Linked DNA regions of Homo sapiens: region 2 is linked to region 1. The links come from fine-mapping of genetic effects on gene expression. Tissue or cell type: blood mononuclear cells. Region 1 holds a variant in brackets; the other region holds the start of a gene. All regions are shown on one strand. Distances are between the middles of the regions.

Region 1 (10,624 bases):
TAAATGGGATAAATGAGTAAATTAGGTAGCATTCCAGAATTAATGAGTGCTATAGAAAAAGAACAAGGAGAGCTGGGTAAAGGGGATCAGGAGTGTGGGTGTGGGTGGTGGCAATTTTTAAAAGGGTGGTCATTGAGAGCATGTGAGCAAAGCCTTGCCAGGAGTGAGAGAACTGGCCATGTGGATATTATGGGGTTGGGTGAAAGTGCTTTCCTCTAGGCAGAGGAAACAAAGGTTGAAACGAAGCAAGAGTCTGGCTGGCTTGTTTGAGGAGGACTCAAGCCTGGAGCTGGGCAAGTGAATAGAAGGTAAGGTCAGGGAAGTAAATGGGCTGGGGACAGGGAGAGGGGCAGATCAGGTATGTCAGGTTGGCCACTCTCAGACTTCAGCTTTTGCTCTAGTGACATTCAGATGCAGGGCAGGGTTTTGGGCAGCAGTAATCTCACATTATTTCCGCCCCCTCCAAGATGGAGTCTCGCTCTGTCACCCAGGCTGGAGTGCAGTGGCGTAATCTCAGCTCACTGCAACCTCTACCTACTGGGTTCAAGTGATTCTCCCGCCTCAGCCTCCCCAGTAGCTGGGACTACAGGCGCGCGCCAACACGCGCGGCCAATTTCTGTATTTTTAGTTGAGACGAGGTTTTGCCGTGTTGGCCAGGCTGGTCTCGAACTCCTGACTTCAGGTGATCTGCCCACCTTGGCCTCCCAAAGTGCTGGGATTACAGGCATGAGCCACTGCGCCCGGACAGTCATCTTACATTTTAAAATAATCTCTCTAGCTGGTATGTTGAGAACTGAGTATAGGGGAGTGAAGGCAGAAGCTGACTGGTTATAAGGCAAAAATCTTGGAGTCATCCTTAATTTCCTCCACCTCTCATAGCTCTTGACTCTACCCAAACACCCAGGTCCTGGGAGCTTCAGGACCTCTCCAGCTCCCTGGACCCTGGTTGCTGGCAGAGCGAGTAGCTCAGCACCCGAATGCCTGGGACTAGAGCCCCCGCGATGAGATGTGCAGGACCCGACCACTTCTCATCCCCTCCACTGCTAGCACCCATCTAAGCAATCCGAGAGTTTTCACCTGAGTGACTGGAAGGAAGGAGCTGCCATTCACTGAGACGTGGAAGGCCATGAAGGGAGCAAGGTTTTGTGTTTTGTTTTGTTGTTGTTGTTGTTTTTAATAGAGAGGGGGTTTCGCCATGTTGGCCAGGCTGGTCTCAAACTCCTGGTCTCAAGTGATCTGCCTGCCTCGGCCTCCCAAAGTGCTGGGATTACAGGCATAAGCCACTGTGCCTAGCCCCAGAGGAGCAGGTTTTGAAGGGAAAGTAAGGAGGTGAATTTTGGGAAAGTTGAGTTGAGGTATCTATCAGATGTCCATGTGGAAATGGCAACTGGGCAATAGAATGTGAGTTTGGGGTTTGTGAGAGAGATCTGGCTGGAGGTGTGTATTTGGGGATCATTAGCATTTTGATGGTATAAGAAAAGAAAGTAAGGACCTTTAGTGGGTCTGGGAGAAGATGGGAAACCAGCAGAGGAGACAGAAAATGAGAAACTGGTAAAGCAGGATGAAAACCAAGAGAATGAAGTGTTTTGGAAAGTCGAGTGAAGAAATTCTATCAGGGAGGAGGGAGAAATTAACTGCAGCAAAGGCTGCAGATAGGTTAAGAAGATGAGGAAAGGAAATTGATTGTTGGTTTTAGCAGCTGGGAAGTCATTGATGATAAGAGCGGTTACAGTGGAGGGCTGGGGACAATGACTGATTGAAATGGATTTAAGATAATGGGGGAGATGGGAGAAAGGAATTGGAAATAGTAAATGTGGGTTATTGGGGCAAAATGTGGGAGTAGGTAAAATCCACCCCTTCCTTGTGTATTTCCCTTCTGGGCGGAAGGGGGCCATGTGAGTCCTGCGTAGCAGTGACAGTGTGCCAGTGGCCAGACTCCTCGGGGGTGGGGCCCTGAGCTGGCGAGGCGGCTGAAGAAGCTTGACATTTGAACTATTCCTCCAGCCCTCCACCCTCAGCTGCCAGGAGGGAAAGCAAATACGATTTTCTACTAGGGCCTGCCCAGTTAAAGTTCCAGTCATGGGACGAGGAGATGCTGGATAACGCAGGAGGCGTGATGTGGGAAGAAGGTAGCGGGAGAGGGTTCTGGTCATAGGACTGTCCATAGCCAGCGGGGAATTTAAATCACCTTCCTGCCTATCTCAGCCCAGATGAAAAAACCGTCTGCCAACATTTTCACTTAATTTCTAAGTCCAGGTTGCTGAAATTTCACTCGGGGCAGAAGTTACCCGTGCCAAGAACCTTTTAAGTTTTCCACTAGTCTCAGGACACCAGCTGGAGACCATCTTTTGCGAGGACTTCCTCCCTGTCCCCTCCAACTCCTCTTCAGAGCCTCAGTCTTCCCATACCTAGGTCCTGGGTGCTTCAGAACACGGGCCTTCAGCTGAGACCTCTCCAACTGCCTGGACCCTGGCTGCTGGCAGACCAAGTTGCTCAACACCCAGAATTAACTTGGGACTGGAGTCCCCATGTGAGGCCACGACAGGAGGCACACAGCAGGACCTCTCAGAAGGGCCTGGAGGGGAAAGATCCCTCAGCTCCAGCCTGTAAAGAAGGTGCACTGGGATGCCCACACAAAGAGGATTCCCTTGGCAGCAAGGAAAACCATTAGCCCTGTGCTGTTTATAGATAGCAGAGAATAAAGAGAAATAAGAAGCACTGTTCGTGTGTTCATATAAAAGTAATGGTTAATTTAGCAGTGAGTGACAGTGTGTTACCAAGTGTAGTTAATGACTCAGGGCCCACTGTTGGTCAGGCTCATGCCGAGGACAGCACATAACTCCTCATGGAAGCTCCTCGCTCTTCTGTTGCTCAAGTGGAAGATCGTCAGTTTATGCCGTAAGAAATTGGCTGGAACGTTACAAGTGACACCACAGAGCGTGCTCCTTTTGAGAAGGGGGGCCAAGAGAGTGATTGCTTTCTGGGACGGGGATATGGTCTCTCCTATCTCACGGAGAAAATGCCAGCACATTTTAGAATTTTTGAGGAGACTAGTATGGATGATATGGGGGTGCAGGTTACTGTGAACTCCACCCCCCATCCCCAGGACTAACTTCATCTTTTGATGGTGGTACCTGCGGAGGGGAAGAGGCAGAATGCCCTTCAGCACTCCTCAGTCCGTACCTGGCCCCCTTGGCTCCCTCCCACCCCGACCCCTCTCACACTTCTAGGGCCTGTAGCCCCTCCTTGCAGGTGTGGACTTTGTCCCTCTTGGCAGGCTGCCAAGGAGCTCAACGAGGCAGAGGAAGGAGGTGGGAGCAGCTGACCACGGGGCCCAGAGTTAAACATTGGCTTGGTTTATAGAGAAAGAGCAGGAAGCATGAATATGGGAAGGGGCTTGGGCTGGGCCCATAGCTGTTTCTTTCTGGACTGGGCTCTCCACAGTGACTGTTCCTGTCAGCTGCTGGGTTCTATCTTTCCTGTTTTCCTTCCTGCTCAGCAAACCTTGGGTTGATTTATGGACTTCTTTGGCTGAATTGTTTGCTACCTTTCCTTCTTTGTCCTCATGATCAAGTCCCCCTTAGTGCCTGAATTATGGATGTGTAGAATACAACCTTGAGAAGTGGGAGGTGAAGAACTGGAGAACTGGGTTCCTCATTAACTTACAATAAACCACACATAGTTAAAGTGTACAATTTGATAAATTTTGACATATGTATATACGCATGAAACCACTGCCACAATTGAGATAGTAAACATGTCCATCACTTCCAAAACAGTTACTCCTGTCTCTTTCTAATTCCTTCCTCCCAACTTCACTCCTGCCATCACATCCCAGTGCAATCAATAATTATGCTAAATGCAAACTAAACTAGTTTGTTTTTCTTAGAATATTATATAGATGGAATCATACAGTGTGTTGATAATTATGAAAATTGTGATACCACCATACCTTAGTTTGCGTTTCTTAGAATATTATATAAATGGAATCATATGGTATGTTGATAATTATGATACAGCATAATTATTTAGGGTTTCATTTATAGTTTTCATGTATCAGTAGTTTATCCTTTGTTATCGAGGTATCTTCATATATTCTAACACACAAGTCCTTTATCAGAAATGCATTTTACAAATACTATTTTTTTCATTCTGTGTTTTGTAATTTTCCTTTTCTTTTTTTTGAGATGGGATCTCACTCTGTCACCCAGGCCGAAGTGCAATGGTGCAGTGCAATGGTGCAGTCACGGCTCACTGCATCCTTGACCTTCTGAGCTCAAATGATCTTCCCACCACAGCCTCCCAAAAGTAGCTGCGACTATAGGCATGTGCCACCATGCCCGGAAAATTAAAAACTTTTTTTTTTTTTGGTAGAGACGAGGTCTCACTATGTTGCCTAGGCTGATCTCAAACTCCTGGGCTCAAGCGATCCTCCAGCCTTGGCCTCCCAAAGTGCTGGGATTACAGGCGTGAGCCACTGCACCTGGACTGTTTTTCCTGTTTCTAACAGTGTCTTTAGAAGAGAAGGCGTTTTAAATTTTTATGATGTCTGGTTTATAAATTATTTATTTTATAAACCATACTTTTGATATCATATAAAGAGATCTTTGCCTAACCCAAGGCCTCATATTTTCTTCTAGAAGATGTAT[A/C]GTTTTAGGTTTGACATTTAGCTCTATGTTTCATTTTGGCTTAATTTTTGTATACAGTGAAGATATGGGTTGAAGTTCATTTCTGGGGGGTTGTATGGGTATTCACTTATGCCAGCACCATTTGTTGAAAAGACTATCCTATTTCCAATGAATTGCCTTTATACCTTCATCAAAAATGAGTTATTTGTATATATGTGGGTCTGTTGATGAATTCTACTCTGTTCCATTGATCTGTTTATTTTGACACCAGTACCACACTGTGTTCATTACTGTGCTTGAGGATAATATAAATACCAGGTGGAATTAAGTACTTCAGTTCTTCTTTTTCAAAGGTTTTTTTTTTTTGTTTTTTTTTGAGACAGAGTCTTGCTCTGTTGCCCAGGCTGGAGTGCAGTGGCGCGATCTCAGCTCATTGCAAGCTCCGCCTCCCGGGTTCACGCAATTCTCCTGCCTCAGCCTCGCGAGTAGCTGGGACTACAGGTGCCCACCACCATGCCCGGCTAATTTTTTGTATTTTTAGTAGAGACAGGGTTTCACCGTGTTGGCCAGGATGGTCTCGATCTCCTGACCTCGTGATCCACCCACCTTGGCCTCCCAGAATGCTCCCAAAATGCCTCCCAAAAAGAAATGAGCCACTGCGCCAGGCCCTGTTTTTAGGTTTTTTTTTTTTTTTTTTTGGGGGGCTATTTTGGGTCCTTATCATTTCCAGATGAATTTTAGAAAGAATTTGTGAATTTCTACAAAAAAGTCTGTTGTGCTTTTGATTAGGATTGTATTAAATCTATAGATCAATTTGGAAAGAATTGACATTTTAATGATATTAAGTCTTCTGATCCTGAATATGGTATGACTCTCCATTTATTTAGCTCTTCATTAATTTCTCTCAGCAATGTTTTGTAGTTGTGAGTGTACATATATCTTTCACAACTTTTGTCAGATTTATTCCTAAGTATTTAATATTTTTGATGCTATTGTAAATGGTATTATTTCCTACATTTTAATTTATGGTTGTTTATTCCTAATACATACACAATTGATTTGTGTATGCCCATCCTGTATCCTGCAAACTTGCTAAACTCACTGATTGGTTCTAATAGGTTTTTTTTTGTGTGCATTCCAAAGGATTTTCATTGTAGAATATCATGTCTTCTGAGAATAAAGCAGTGTTATTTTTTCCTTTTAAATCGGAATAACCTTTAATTCCTTATCTTGCCTTATTGGCTAGATTCTATGGCTAGAATCCCCAGTACAGTATTGAATAGAAGTAGTAAGAATAGACACTTGTTTTATTCTCAATCTTAGCAGTCTTTTACAATTAAGTATGATGTTAGCTGTAGGGTTTTTTTGTAGATGCCCTCTATCAAGTTGAGGAAGTTCTCTTCTCCTCATCATTGCTGGGAGTTTTTATTAGGAATGACTGTTGGATTCAGTCAAATACTTTACTGTACCTATGAAATGATCATATAGTTTTTCTTTTGTAATTTGTTAACAGGATGAGTCACATTATTTATTTATCCATTTATTATAACAGCTGGAGACTACAACACTATGTTGATTTTTTAAAATGTTAAACCCACTTTGTATCTCTGGGATAAACATTACTATATAATATATTGTCCTATTAACATATTGTTAGATTTGATTTCCTAAAATCATTTAGAATTTTGGCATTTATGTTCATGAAATATGTTGATCTTTAACTTTCTTTTCTTATAATGTATTTGTCTGCTTTTATTATCAGGGTAATGCTCACTTTATAAAATTGGTTGGGTAAGCATTCCATCTTTTCAATTTTTTGGAAGAGTTTGTGTAGAATTGCTGTTATTTCTTCCTTAAATATTTGGAGGATTCACCACTGAAGTCATTTGAGCCTGGAAATTTTTGTGGGATGGGTTTAAACCAAAAATGAATTTTCCTTAATAGTTATAGGGCTATTCAGACTGTTTCTTTTTGAGTGGGCTTTGGTAGTTACGTTTTTTATTTTACCTAAATTGTTGCACTTACTGGCATAAAGTTCTTCATATCTTTTCTTATTATTGTTTTAATATCTATAGAATCTTTACTGAGGATACATCTCATTTGTCATGCTGATAATTTGTGTCTTCTAAAATTTTATCAATTTTATTATCTCAAAGAACCAGCTTTTGGTTCATGGATTTTCTCTGTTGCTTTCCTGTTTTCCATTTTATTGATTTCCACTCTGATTTTTATTTCCTTTGACTTACTTTGGCTTTCATTTGCTCTTATCCTTCTCATTTCTTTCTTTCTTTTTTTCTTAACTACACCCTCATTTCAGCAATAATTTCTGATTTCTTAAGGTGGAAGCCGAGGTAATTGATTTGAAACTTTTCTTCTTTTATCATTTAGTAAATCTCCTAGGTACTGCTTTAGCAGTATGCCACAAATTATGATACTGGGTTTCATTTCATTCCATTCAAGATACTTTCTAATTTCTCTTTTGATTACTTCAGTAGAGCCATAGGCTATTTAGAAATGTGTTACCTAATTTCCAAATAGGTGGCAATTTTCCAAATGTCTTTCTCTGATAGATTTCTAATTTAGTCAGAGAACCAATTTTGTATTACTTGGATGCTTTTAAACTTACTGAGATTTGATCTCTGGTCCAGGATATGGGCCCATCTTGGTGGAATATTCCATGTTCATTTGAAACTAATGCATATTCTGCTGTTGGACTGTTGGGTAGAATGTTCAATAAATGTCAACTAAGTTGAGCTGGTGGATATAATTTTCAAATCTGTTATATCCATACTGATTTTCTGTATACTTATTCTATAAATTATTGAGAGAGGGCTATTAACGTTTTTAACATTTATCAGGAATTAGTTTATATGTTTCTCTTTGTAGTTCTGTCAGTTTTTGCTTCGTGCATTTTGAAGCTCTGTCATTAGGTGAATATGCACTTGAAATACTGATTGATTAATTGACCCTCTTGATTAATTGACCCTTTAATCATTATGAAATTACCTTCTTTACCCTTGGTAATATTCTTTGCTCTGAAGTTTACTTTGTGTGACATTAAGATAAACTTTACAGATTTATTTTGAGTAGTGTTAGCATGGTATATCTTTTTTTTTTTTTTTTTTTTTCCGAGACGGAGTCTTGCTGTCGCCTAGGCTGGAGTGCAGTGGTGCAACCTCGGCTCACTGCATGCTCCGCCCCCCGGGGTTCACTCCATTTCTCCTGCCTCAGCCTCCCAGCATGGTATATCTTTCTATCCTTTTACTTTTAACCTCTTCATGTCTTTTTTATTCAAAGTGCATTTTCTTAAGGCAGCATATAGTTGAGTCTTGTCAGGTTTTAAAAGCCAGTCTAACAATCTCTGCCTTTTATTTGGGACGTTTAGACCATTTGCATTTAATACGATTATCCATGTAATTAGGTTTAACTCTATCATCCTATTATTTGTTTTCTCTTTGTCCTATCAGTTATTTGTTTCCCCCTTCCCTCTCCTCCTGCTTTTTTTTTGGAATAATTGAATATTTTTTCTTATTCCATTGTTAGCTTTCTTCTTTTTGTTGGCTTATTAGCTGTAACTTTGTTGTGTTATTTTACTGATTGTTTTAAACTTTGTAGTATACATCTTTAACTTATCACACTTTATCTTCAAGTGATAATGTACCACTTTATATATAAGAACCTTAAAATATTACAATTTCATTTCTTTCCTCCTAACCTTTGTGCTCTTCTTATACATTTTTATATGTTATAAAATCAATATTACATTGTTTTTATTTTTGTTTAACCAGTCAATTATCTTTTAAAAAATATTTGAATAATAAGAAAAACATTCTCTATGTTTATCTATGTAATTACTATTTCTAAAGCTTTTTATTACTTTGTATAGATTCATATTTCTATCTGGTGATATCATTTCATTCTCCCTGAAGGAGTTTCTTCCACATTTCTGGTAGTTCAGTTCTACTTGTGGTAGATCCTTTCAGGTTTTGCATGTCTTAAGAAACAGTTATTTCACTTTCCTTTTTGAACAGTATTATTGCTGGGTATAGAATTCCGGGTTGACAGCTTTCTCCCTCCTCCTTTATTGCTTCAGCAAATGTGCTTCCTTATCACTGTCTTCTCTTTTGCATTGTTTTAAATGAGAAATTTGATGTTATTCTTATCTTTGTCTGTACATATGTGTCGTTTTTCTCTGGTGACTTTTAAGGTTTTCTCTTAAAAGCTCCATATTCCGGTTTAAGTAATGTGATTATGATGCACCTTGGACTAGTTTTTTTTCATTTTTTTTTTAATCTTGGTGTTTGTTGAACTTTTTGGATCTATAGGTTTATAGTTTTCATAAAATTTGTAAAATTTTCAGCTATTATTTCTGTAAGCTTTTTCTCACCCTTTTCTTTCTTTCACAGACTCCCATTACATTAGGCTTTTTGAAGCTGTCTCACCACTTAGGCATACCTGTTCTTTTTAAAAAATTTCTTTTTTCTTTTCTTTCTTTCTTTTCTTTCTTTCTTTTTTTTTTTTTTTGAGATGGAGTCTCACTCTGTCACCCAGGCTGGAGTGCAGTGGTATGATCTCAGCTCACTGCAACCTCCACCTCCCAGGTTCAAGTGATTCTCCTGCCTCAGCCTCCCAAGTAGCTGGAATTACAGGCATGCACCACCACACCCAGCTAATTTTTGTACTTTTAGTAGAGACAGGGTTTCACCATGTTGGCTGGGCTGGTCTTGAACTCCTGACCTCAGGTGATCCACCTGCCTCGGCTTCCCAAAATGCGGGGATTACAGGCATGAACTACCATGCCCAGCAAAAATGTTCTTTTTTCTCTCTGTGTTTTATTTTAGATAGTTTCTATTATGGTTCAAGGTCACTGATCTTTTCTTCTGCTCTGCCTACTAACATTAATCCCATCCAATGTATTTCTTTAAATCTCACACACTGTAGTGTTCATGTTCAGAAGTTTTATTTGGGTCTTTTTCAATATCTTTTATATCCCTAACTTTTGGAACACTTGCAATACAGTTATAATAACTTTTAAATATTCTCATCTGCTAATTCTAACATCTTTGTAAATTATGGGTCAGGTTCAATCTCCTTGCTATGAGTAACATTTTCCTGATTCTTTGCTTTCCTGGTAATTTTCGATTGAATACCAGACCTGGTAATATTTTTGCTTTATGGGTTGCTGGATAATTTATTTATTTATTTATTTATTTTTGAGACAGAGTCTCACTCTGTTGCCAGGCTGGAGTGCAGTGGAGCGATCTCGGTTCACTGCAACCTCCATCTCCCGGGTTCAAGCAATTCTCCTGGTTCAGCCTCCCAAGTAGCTGGGACCACAGGCACATGCCACCATGCCCAGCTAATTTTTGTATTTTATTTATTTATTTATTTATTTATTTTTACTTTTATTTTTTGAGATGGAGTCTTGCTCTGTCACCCAGGCTGGATTGCAGTGGCACAATCTCGGCTCACTGCAACCTCCGCCTCCTGGGTTCACGCCATTCTCCTTCCTCAGCCTCCCAAGTAGCTGGGACTATAGGCACCCACCACCACACCCGGCTAATTTTTTTGTATTTTTAGTAGAGATGGGGTTTCACTGTGTTAGCCAGGATGGTCTCGATCTCCTGACCTCATGATCCACCTGCCTCAGCCTCCCAAAGTGCTGGGATTACAGGCTTGAGCCACCGCGCCCAGCTAATTTTTGTATTTTTACTAGAGATGGGGTTTCACCATGTTGGCCAGGATGGTCTCGATCTCTTGACCTCGTGATCTGCCTGCCTTGGCCTCCCAGAGTGCTGGGATTACAGGCGTAATCCACCACACCCTGCCTTTTCTTTCTTTCTTTTTTTTTTGCGACAGAGTCCCACTCTGTTGCCCAGGCTGGAGTGCAGTGGCACGATCTCGGCTCACTGCAACCTCTGCCTCCCAGGTTCAAGCAATTCTCCTGCCTCAGCCTCCCAAGTAGCTGGAGCTACAGGTGCGTGCCACCATGCCAG
Region 2 (10,624 bases), 150 kb before region 1:
GTCTCCTCGTTCCACTTTTGTGTGTGTGAGACAAAGTCTTGCTGTGTCATCCAAGCTGGAGTGCGATGGCGCAATCTCGGCTCACTGCAACCTCTGCCTCCAGGATTCAAGTGATTCTCCTGTCTCAGCCTCCCGAGTGGCTGGGAAGACAGGCACATACCACCAAGCCTGGCTAATTTTTGTATTTTTAGTAGAGACGGGGTTTCACCATGTTGGCCAGGCTGGTCTTGAACTCCTGACCTCAGGTGATCCACCTGCCTTGGCCTCCCAAAGTGCTGGGATTACAGGCATGAGTCACCACGCCTGGTCCCCCTGTTCCATTTTCAACCTCATCCCTTATAATGTATTCTCAACACATTAATATATATGTGTCAAAACACAAAACTCCTCTGCCCAAAAGCCTCCAATGACTTTTCATCTTACTCAGAGGGTCAAGGTCTTTAAAATTGCCGACAAGGTCCTGTATGATCTGGCCAACCTCATTACTTCTGTGACCTCACCTACTACTCTTATCCTTGTTCACTGCGGTAAAAACACCGGCCTCTTGGCTGTTCTTCAAACGTGCCAGGCACACTTCTACTTCAGAGTCCCCGTACCTACAGTTCTCTTTGCTATGATGTTCTTTCCCCATTTATCTATGTGGCTTACTCCCTCTCCTCCTTCAGGGCTAAAATGTCACTTTCTTGATGAAGTCTTCCCTGACCACTCTACCAACCTCATCCCTCTTCTCTGTTTTACTTTTCTCCATTAACACTTACAACCTTGGCTAGTTGAAGTGGCTCACGCCTGTAATCTCAGCACTTTGGGAGGCCAAGGCGGATAGACTGCTTGAGTCCAGGAGTTTGAGACCAGCCTGGGCAACATGGCAAAACCCTGTCTCTACAAAAAATTAGCCAGATGTGGTGGCACATGTCTGTAGTCCTAGTTAAACAGGAGGCCGAGGTAGGAGGATCGCCTGCACCGGGGGATCAAGGCTGCAGTGAGCCATGATCACGCCATTGCAGTCCAGCTGGGGTGACAGAGTGAGACCCTCTCTTAAAAAAAAAAAAAAAAAAAAGTTGAACACTTATAACCATCTAATATTTAATGTCTGTCTCTCCACACTGGAATATGCAAACTCACTAAAGGCAGCGGGTTTTTATCTATTATGTTCACTGCTGTATCCCTAGTAACATAAACAGTGCCTGGCTCATACTAAGTGTATATGTATATATATACAACTCTCAATATGAATTTGAAAGACTGTTAAACATCCTTTTCTTCTGCTGGCCAGTCTATTCAATCTAGATTTAAAAATCTGTTTCTGCTTCTCTCATCCCATTTGTTTTCTTCTACAGCCAACCCTTCAAATACGCCATCTTTCTTCTAATTCTCTCCTTTAAAAGACTACTCTCCTCCTCCAAACTCACCTCCTTCCAAAATACGTCTCCAAATTGGGTCAATGTGCCTCTTGTCCAAATAACCTAGAAAATAAAGTTATTGGATTGGCATGGAAGGATTATGGGTAACATTTTTTTAAAAAAGCAGCTTTATGGAATGTAATTTGTGTACACCATTAAACTCATTCAAAGTGTAAATTCAATGATTTTTAGTATATTCACAGATACGTGTACCTATCAGCACAGTCCATTCTAGAAGTTTCGTCACTTCAAGAAAAAAACCCTGTGTCCTTCAGCTATTATCCCTGTCTCCCAGTCCTAAGCAACCACTAACCTACTGTCTCTACAGATTTCCCTATTCTGGACTTTCCTATAAATGGAATCACATAGTATATGGTCTTTTGTGACTGTCTTGTTTCACTTAGCATAATGTTTTCAAGGTTCACCTATGTGGTACCATGTATCAGTACTTCATTCCTTTTTGTGGCTGAATAAAATTCCATTGTACGGATATGGGTGACAACTTAAAGTTAAATTTCACTGTTTCAAAGCCATTTAAGAGTAATTTGAAGCGGCTGGGCACAGTGGCTCCTGCCTGTAATCCCAGCACTTTGGGAGGCCGAGGAAGGCGGATCACCTGAGGTCAGGAATTCAAGACCAGCCTGACCAACCTGGAGAAACCCCATCTCTACTAAAAATACAAAGTTAGCTGGGCATGGTGGTGCATCCCTATAATCCCACCTACTCAGGAGACTGAGGCAGGAGAATTGCTTGAACCTGGGAGGCGGAGGTTGTGGTGAGCCAAGATCGCGCCATTACACTCCAGCCTGGGCAACAAGAGCGAAACTCCGTCTCAAAAAAAAAAAAAAAAAAGTAATTTGAAGCTTTGAAAGACCCTTCTAACAACCTGCAATCCCTCTTCTCCTTCATAGTGACTGTCCTCACTGTTGCACATGTCTACGAAAAGTTGTCTACACTCACCTCTCTGGCTGCAAGACGGGGCCTTGCTATGTTGCCCAGGCTGGCCTTGAACTCCCGGACTCAAACAATCCTCCTCCCTTGGCCTTCCAAAGTGCTGAGATTACAGGCATGAGCCACTGAGCCAGGCCTCGGGCTTCTACTATGACATCTAACCAAGCTCTTATTGGTCAGCAGACATCCAAATTAATAAATTCAATTGCTCTTTTCTGTTTCTATCCTCCTCCATCCAATAGTTACTCCTTCACTTGTATTCTTAATTAGATAGTGCCAACTACCTATTTATTTATTTATTTTTTGAGACAGAGTCTCACTCTGTTCAGCCCAGGCTGGAGTGCAGTGGCACGATCTTGGCTCACTGCAACCTCCACCTCCTGGGTTCAAGTGATTCTCCTGCCTCAGCCTCCCCAGTGGCTGGGATTACAGGCACCTGCCACTGTGGCTAATTTTTTTTGTATTTTTAGTAAAGACAGGGTTTCGCCATGTTGGCCAGGCTGGTCTCGAACTCCTGACCTCAGATGATCCACCCACCTCTGCCTGCCAGTGTTGGGATTACAGGCGTGAGCCACTGTGCCTGGTAGTGCCAACTACCCTTTAAAAATATATCACTTTGGGACCGGACCTTGGCATGGCCAGGCCATGGCAAGACCCTGTCTTTACCAAAATTTTAAAAATTAGCTGGGCACAGTGGCAATGTAGTCCCACCTGCTTGGTGCGAGGATCACTTCAGCCTGAGGGTTCAAGGCTGCAGCGAGCAGTGATCGTGCCACTGCACTCTAGCCTGGACAACAGCGCAAGACCCTGTCTCAAAAAACAATTAAAATAGGCTGGGCACAGTGGCTCATGCCTGTAATGCCAGCACTTTGGGAGGCCAAGGTGAATGGACTGCTGGAGGTCAGGAGTTTGAGACCAGCCTGGGCAACATGGTGAAACCCTGTCTCTACAAAAATTACAGAATTAGCTGGGAGTGGTGGCACGTGCCTGTAGTCCCAGCTATTCAGGAGGCTGAGGCAGAGGATTGCTTGAGCTTGGGAGGCAGAGGCTGCACTGAGCTGAGATTGCCCCACTGCTCTCCAGCCTAGGTGACAGAGTGAGACCTTACCTGGAAAAAATAATAATAAAAATAAATATTGCTTTGTAGTTGAGAATGTGGGCTCTGATATCAGACTTGGGTTTGAGTCAAAGCCCTGCCTCTTATTAGCTGTGTACCTCAGGCAAGTTATCCTCTCTAAATTTCAGTTACTTCTATGTCATAGGTTGGTGTACGGATATAAGGCCGAGGGACAGTGTTTGACACATATATAAGCACTCAGTAAATGTGGACTATTATTATTATTGACAATTTTACTCCCTTGGCTCAGAGGTTCTGTCTTCAAGTTTCTTTATCATTTCCTCTAACCATTTCTTTGGGAACATCATTATTCCTCCTGTTTTTATTATTAACTCTGTCATCTAAAACACTACATGGCATACAGTAAGTAACAATTACATGTTGAATAAATAAACGACATCTCTTTCAACCTCTTGATTTGAATTAACAAAAATGTAGTGGACATTTTCACCCATAGTCCCACTGGCACTTGAAACGTTTAACTTAAAAAAGAAATCACTCAAGTTAGGTATTTTTTTAGCATCTCAAAGCTAACATTTCCTAAACCTAACACATCATCTTTTTATCCAAACATGCCCCTTCTGACTTTCCTATTTTAGTTACTAATTCAGCGTTTCCAAGCAACCGGGAGTTGGCAACTTAAATTCATCATTTGATCACTCATTCTTCTGAACCTCCTGTCTAACCATATGAATATCTTGTATATTTTATCTCCACAATGACCATGTTAATTCAGAGTCTCAATACTTCTTACCCACACCATTACAACACCTTAACGGTTCTACCTACTCCTTGCGTCTCCTGGACCATTTTCTTTAATAAAATACATCAGTAGCACCTCATAGCCTAAAGCATTAAATCCAATTTGTTAGCCTAGAATTCATGGCTTTCTACATAAGGGCCAAACCTAACTTTCCTGCCTTATTTCTCTCTACTCTCCTAAATGTACCGTTTCCAGATAACTTTCCTGCCTCCATACCTTTGTTCATGAGCTTCCCTCTAGCTGGAACACAACTCCCTCCACAACCCTCATAATTTCACTTAACAAAATCTAGTCTGTACATGAAAACTCATCTTAAATACCACCTCCTTTTTCTCTTTCCTGAGTCTCCCCATCCAAAATGATTTAGCAAAAATGATCTAAGTGCAAAAGAACTGCCTTTGAAATTATCTACAAGTCAACATATTAGAGTGCTTTATTGCTATCGTTTCTCCCATGCTAGCGTGCGCTCCCTACAGACAGAAATCGCGTCTTACTCTTCATTGCCTCTTCCAAAGGAACAATGCCTTTGTTTATAGGTAAATTAACGGGTTTCAGCTAGGGTCTCTGCACCTATCTCCAATACCCTTGCTTAGATATATTCTTATAGCTTGTCTACTAACAATTAACATTTGTGTAGCACTTTGAATTTTTTTCTTTTAGCCACGTGACAAATCTGTACAATTTATTATCCCAACAACCGTTCAGTATTTTCACTATCCCTTATTTCACAAATGAGGAAACTGAGAGCTAGACCAGCGTGGGGTTAGAGTACACCGGAACGCATCTCCAGGGCGCCCGAATCCCGTACTCCTTTTCCCACTTCATCCCATTCTCGACCGCCTCACTGCTCCAGGTCCCAACGCTCCAGCACTCCTGAGGTCTCTCCCTTTGCACATTGGAGCTTTCCTCCTCCGGTCCCCAGCCCCTCCACGGACACCACATTCAGGCTCACGTCCTCTCCTCCGCACTGCTTCCGCAGTTACTTCTCCCTAACCAGATTTTCTTCCCAAGGCTTCTTACCTAACCCCTTCACCCCAAACCCGAAACTCTATACTCACGACACACTAAGACTCCGAGTCAGGGAACGCAACTGAAAAACAAAAGTCAAACCAAGGAGCGGCGCGGCGCCACTGAGCGTCCCTGAATCCGTGCAATCGCGAAGAAGTTTACATGGCCCTTTGGAATGCGCACCAATGGGAAGGGCCTTCACACAGAGGCCCGCCCCCATCTCGCCCCTCCTCGCGGTGCTCCCGACCGCGCAGAGGTCTCTGGGAAATGTAGTTTTCTTCTGCCTGGAGCTCTGCGCGGGGCGACGCAGCTGGGCTGCAACCCGCTCCTCCAGGGACGGGTAGTGTGACGTTTGGGGTCAGAACGCACCACTTTCGGGCACCCCCACTTAAGATTGCTCAACTGCTTTGAGCTCAGGTACTTCGCGTTCATGGTACATATATGTTGTAATTTCCAAGCTTGTCTCAAGAGATAAAGATTCTAAGAAAAGTTTCTTCTTCCATGACCGGGTGGCCTAGAGCCAGGATAGGACCTGAGGTTCAGTTTCTACGGTCAGGGGACTATGTATTAAAATTCTACTATTTGTTCCATAGCAAACACTGCTTCCTTTTCCGGAGAAATGTAAGACACTGGGCTTTAATGATAAAAGCAAGTTCAAAATCCATTATGGTCTTATCTTTCCAGAAAGCAAGGTGTAAAGGTGGGGGAAAAGCACTTTCGTCTCAGAATTACAGCTACTGGTATGGAAAAGCTGGGGCCCTTCGCTGGTGTGAGTCCTAAGGATGTCTAAATGGAACGTGCATCTGCTACAGGCTCGCACTTTCCTTTATTGCGCTTCCCAGGTAACTGTTTTTACAAATGTAAGGTTTGTGGCAACTCTGCATGGAACCAAATCTATCTGCGCCATTTTTCCTACAGCACAGGCTTACTATGTGTCTCTGCACCACATTTGGTAATTTTCACAATATTTCAAACTTTTTCATAATTATTGTATATGTTATGCTGATCTGTTATCCTTTATATTACTATTATAATTGTTTAGGGGCACCATGAACCATGCCCATATAAGATGGCAAACTTAATTCATAAATGTTGTGGATGTTTTAACTGCTCCACAGACCAGCAGTCTCCCTGCCTTTCTCCCTCTCTTCTTGCCTCCTTATTCCTGTGATACAACAATATTGAAATTAGACCAATTAACAATCCTACAGTGGGGGTTCAAGTGAAAGGAAGAGTCACACATCTCTTACTTTAAATAAAAAGCTGAAAATGATTAAGCTCAGTGAAAAAGGCATGTTGAAAGCCAAGACAGGATGAAAGCCAGTCTTCTTGCACCAAAGTTAGCCAAGTTGTGCATGCAAAGGAAAAGTTTTTGAAGGAAATTAAAAGTGCTACTCCAGTAAACACAAAAATGATAAGAAAGTGAAACAGACATTGCTGATATAGAGAAAGTTTGAGTGGTCTGGATAGAAGATCAAACCAGCCACAGCATTCCCTGAAGCCAAAGCCTAATCTGGAGCAAAGTCCTAACTCTTCAATAAAATGAAGGCTGAGACAGGTGAGGAAGCTGCAGAAGAAAAGGTGGAAGATAGCGGAGGCTGGTTCGTGAGGTTTAAGGAAAGGAGCTATTTCCGTTACTTAAAAGTGCAAGGTGGAAGCAGCAAGTGCTGATGTAGATGCCGCAGCAAGTTATTCAGAAGAGCTAACTAAGGTAATTGATTAAGGTGGCTAAACTAAACTACAGACTTTTGATATATATGAACCAGCCTTTTATTGGAAGGAGATGCCAAGTAGTACTTTTGTAGCTAGAGAGAAGTCAATACCTGGCTTCACAGCTTCTAAGAACAGACTGACTCTCATGTTAGGGGCTAATGCAACTGGTGACTTTAAGTTGAAGCCAGTGCCCATTTACATCCCTGAAATCCTAGAGCCCTTAAGAATTATGTTAGATATAGTCTGCCTGTGCTCTATAAATGGAACAACAAAACCTGGATGACAGCATATATGTTTATAGCATGGTTAACTGAGTATTTTAAGTTCACCGTTTTATGTATGTTTTATTTTAAGTCCTACTGCTCAGGAAAAAAAGGATTTCTTTCAAAATATTACTTCTCACTCACAATGCAACTGGTCACCCAAGAGCTCTGGTGGAGGTATGCAAACAGATGAATGTTGCTTTCATGCTTGCAAACACAACAGACATTCTGCAGCTCATGGATCAAGGAGTCATTTTGACTTTCAGGTCTTATTAAGAAATATATTTCAGGCCGGGCACGGTGGCTCACATCTGTAATCCCAGCACTTTGGGAGGCTGAGGTGGGCGGATCACCAGGTCAGGAGATCGAGACCAGCCTGGCCAACATGGAGAAACCCCCGTTTCTACTAGAAATACAAAATTAGCTGGCCATGATGGCGCATGCCTGTAATCCCAGCTACTCAGGAGGCTGAGGCAGGAGAATCACTTGAACCTGGGAGGCGGAGGTTTCAGTGAACTGAGATCGTGCCATTGCACTCCAGCTTGGGCAACAAGAGTGAAACTCCGCCTCAAAAAAAAAAAAATATTTCATAAGGCTATAGCTGCCAGACATAGTGATTTCTCTGGTGGATCTGGGCAAAGTAAATCGAAAACCTTCTGGAAAGGACTCACCACCATTCTAGATGTCCTTAAGATCATTTGTGACTTGGCTTGGTGAGATGTCTCACACCTGTAAACCCAGCACTTTGGAAGGCCAACGTGGGTGGATCACTTAAGCTCAGGAGTGCATGACAAGCCTGGGCAACATAGAAAACCTTGTCTCTATAAAAAAATACAAAAACTAGCCAGGAGTGGTGGCATGCACCTGGCTACTTGGGAGGCTGAGGTGGGAGGATTGCTTGAGCCTGGGAGACCAAGGTTGCAGTGAGCCGAGATTGTGCCACTGCAGTCCAGCCTGAGTGACAGAGCAAGACTGTGTCTCAAAAAAAAAAAAGTAAAAATATATTTAATAAAAAAATTTTAAAAAGAACATTTGTGACTTATGGGAGGAGGTCAATATCAATAATAACAGGAGTTTGGAAGAAGTTAATTCCAATCCTCTTGGATGTCTTTGAGGGGGTTCAAGACTTCATGGACGAAATAACTGCAGATGCTGTGGAAGTAGCAAGAGAACTAGAATTAGAAGTGGAGCCTTGGGAGGCTGAGGCAGGAGAATCGCTTGAACCCGGGAGGCAGAGGTTGCAGTGAGCCCAGATCGCGCCACTGCAGTCCAGCCTGGGCAACAGAGCAAGATTCTGTCTCAAAAAAAAAAAAAAGTGGAACCTGAAGATGTGACTGAATTGCTGCAATCTCATGATGAAACTATGGATGAAGAGTTGCTTCTTATGAATAAGTAAAGAAAGTGGTTTCTTTAGCTGGAATCTACTCCTGGTGAAGATGCTGTGAACATTGCCAAAATGACAACAAAGGGTTTAGAATATTCCATAAACTTAGTCGATAAAGCAGTTGCAGGGTTTGAGGATTGACTTCAACTTTGAAAGAAGTTCTACTATGGGTAAAATGCTATCAAACAGCATTGCATGCTACAGAGAAATCTTTCATGAAAGGAAGAATCAATCAATATCATGAAAGGAAGAATGAAAACAACTTCATTGTTGTCTTATTTTAAGAAATTGCCACAGCCACCCCAGCCTTTAGCAATCAGCACCATGATCAGTCAGCAGCCCCCAACATCAAGGCTAGACCCTCCATCAGTGAAAATATTATGACTTGGCTTAGACGATCATTAGCATTTTTAGAATAAAGTATTTTAAGGCCAGTCGCGGTGGCTCACGCCTGTAATCCCAGCACTGCAGGAGGCTGAGACGGGCGGATCACGAGGTCAGGAGATGGAGACCATCCTGGCTAAGACAGTGAAACCCCATCTCTACTAAAAATACAAAAAATTAGCCGGGCGTGGTGGCGGGCGCCTGTAGTCCCAGCTGCTCGGGAGGCTGAGGCAGGAGAATCACTTGAACCCAGGAGGCAGAGGCTGCAGTGAGCTGAGATCGCGCCACTGCACTCCAGCCTGGGTGACAGAGCAAGACTCTGTCTCAAAAAAAAAAAGCATTTTAAATTAAGGCATGTAAATTTTTTTAAAGAAATAATGCAAACTAGAAATAATGCACTAGACTACAGTATCGTGTAAACACATAGCTTTTTTTATGTACCAGGAAACCGAAAATTTCGAGCAATTTGCTTTATGGTGATATTCACTTTATTATGGTGGTCTGGAACTGAACCTGCAATATCTCCAAGTTATGCCTGTACTCCCAAACCTGCTTTTTTCTCCCTTGTGATTTTCTCTGTTAATTACATTAATATCTTCCCAAACATCTCGGCTCGGTATCTTTTGTCTATTTCCTTTCTTTTAGCCCCTGCAATTTTTAAAAAATCAAGTCATGGTGAGCCTGTCTTCATATATATCTTCCTATTTATTTCCACTATGTGTCTTATTACCTTTCACTTGGTCTATTACCATAGGCTTCTAACTGGGTGTTCTTGCCTCCAATCCATTCTATAAAAGGTGATTTTTGTCCAGGCTGGTCTTGAACTCCTGACCTCGTGATCCACCCGCCTCAGCCTCCCAAAGTGGTGGGATTACAGGCATGAGCCCCATCTCTAGTAAAAATACAAAAATTAGCTGGGTGTGGTTACATGTGGCACATGCCTGTAATCCCAGCTACTCAGGAGGCTGAGGCAGGCGAATTGCTTGAACTCAGGAAGTGGAGGTTGCAGTGAGCTGAGATCACGCTGTTGCACTCCAGCCTGGGTGACAGAGCGAGACTCTGTCTCCAAAAAATTCAATTCCGGGTCTGTCACACTCCTGCTTATAAACTTTGATGACTCCCCACAGACTAGAGAATGAAGTTCAGACAGTAGTATGGCATTCAAAGACTGCAGCTATCTGACCCCATTTGTCTCTATTAGAAGAAATTGATGTGGTCATCTCCTGAACACAGGACGCACTTTCCAGCTTCAGTTCACACTCTTCCTTTTATCTGGATTGGCCCTTTCAGTGCATCTTCACTCAAAATTCTTACGAGAGCCAACTCAAATACTACCACTTTTGTAAAATCTTGACTTATCTCCCTAATTGGAAATACAGTTGTCCCTTGCTCAGTATCTGCTAGGGATTGGTGCCAGGCAATTCCTGGGTACCAAAAGGCATAGATGCTCAAGTCCCTTACATAAATGGCATATTATTTGCATATGACCTATGCACACCCTCCCGTATACTTCAAAACATCTATAGATTACTTATAATACCTAATACAATTTAAACAGTTGTTTTTCTTCCTTTTCCTTTTTTATTTATTTATTTTTTCAAGAGGGAGTCTTGCTCTGTCCCGCAGGCTGGAGTGCAGTGG

What was found. PIP is the estimated chance that this variant, and not a neighbour inherited with it, causes the effect.
Region 2: CCDC77 starts here. The variant in region 1 is fine-mapped to the expression of CCDC77 in blood mononuclear cells (TOPMed, PIP 0.97).

What each region holds. Positions count from the first base shown.
Region 1 is chr12:245,536-256,159 of GRCh38, reverse strand. The region is part of intron 2 of SLC6A13 (solute carrier family 6 member 13); the gene reads left to right. LOC102723544 (a long non-coding RNA gene) reads left to right here. Exons shown (of 3, transcript NR_120482.1): 3 at 2,413-2,718. Among named protein-coding and RNA genes, the nearest start is that of SLC6A13, 12 kb to the left of the region's middle. The variant A/C (reference allele first, on the strand shown) is at 4,650.
Region 2 is chr12:396,350-406,973 of GRCh38, reverse strand. CCDC77 (coiled-coil domain containing 77) reads right to left here and starts at 5,330. Exons shown (of 13, transcript NM_032358.4): 1 at 5,290-5,330; 2 at 1,410-1,463. LOC105369594 (a long non-coding RNA gene) reads left to right here and starts at 5,564. Exons shown (of 4, transcript XR_007063149.1): 1 at 5,564-5,656; 2 at 5,924-6,081. RefSeq lists enhancers at 1-131, 4,520-5,072, 5,487-5,806.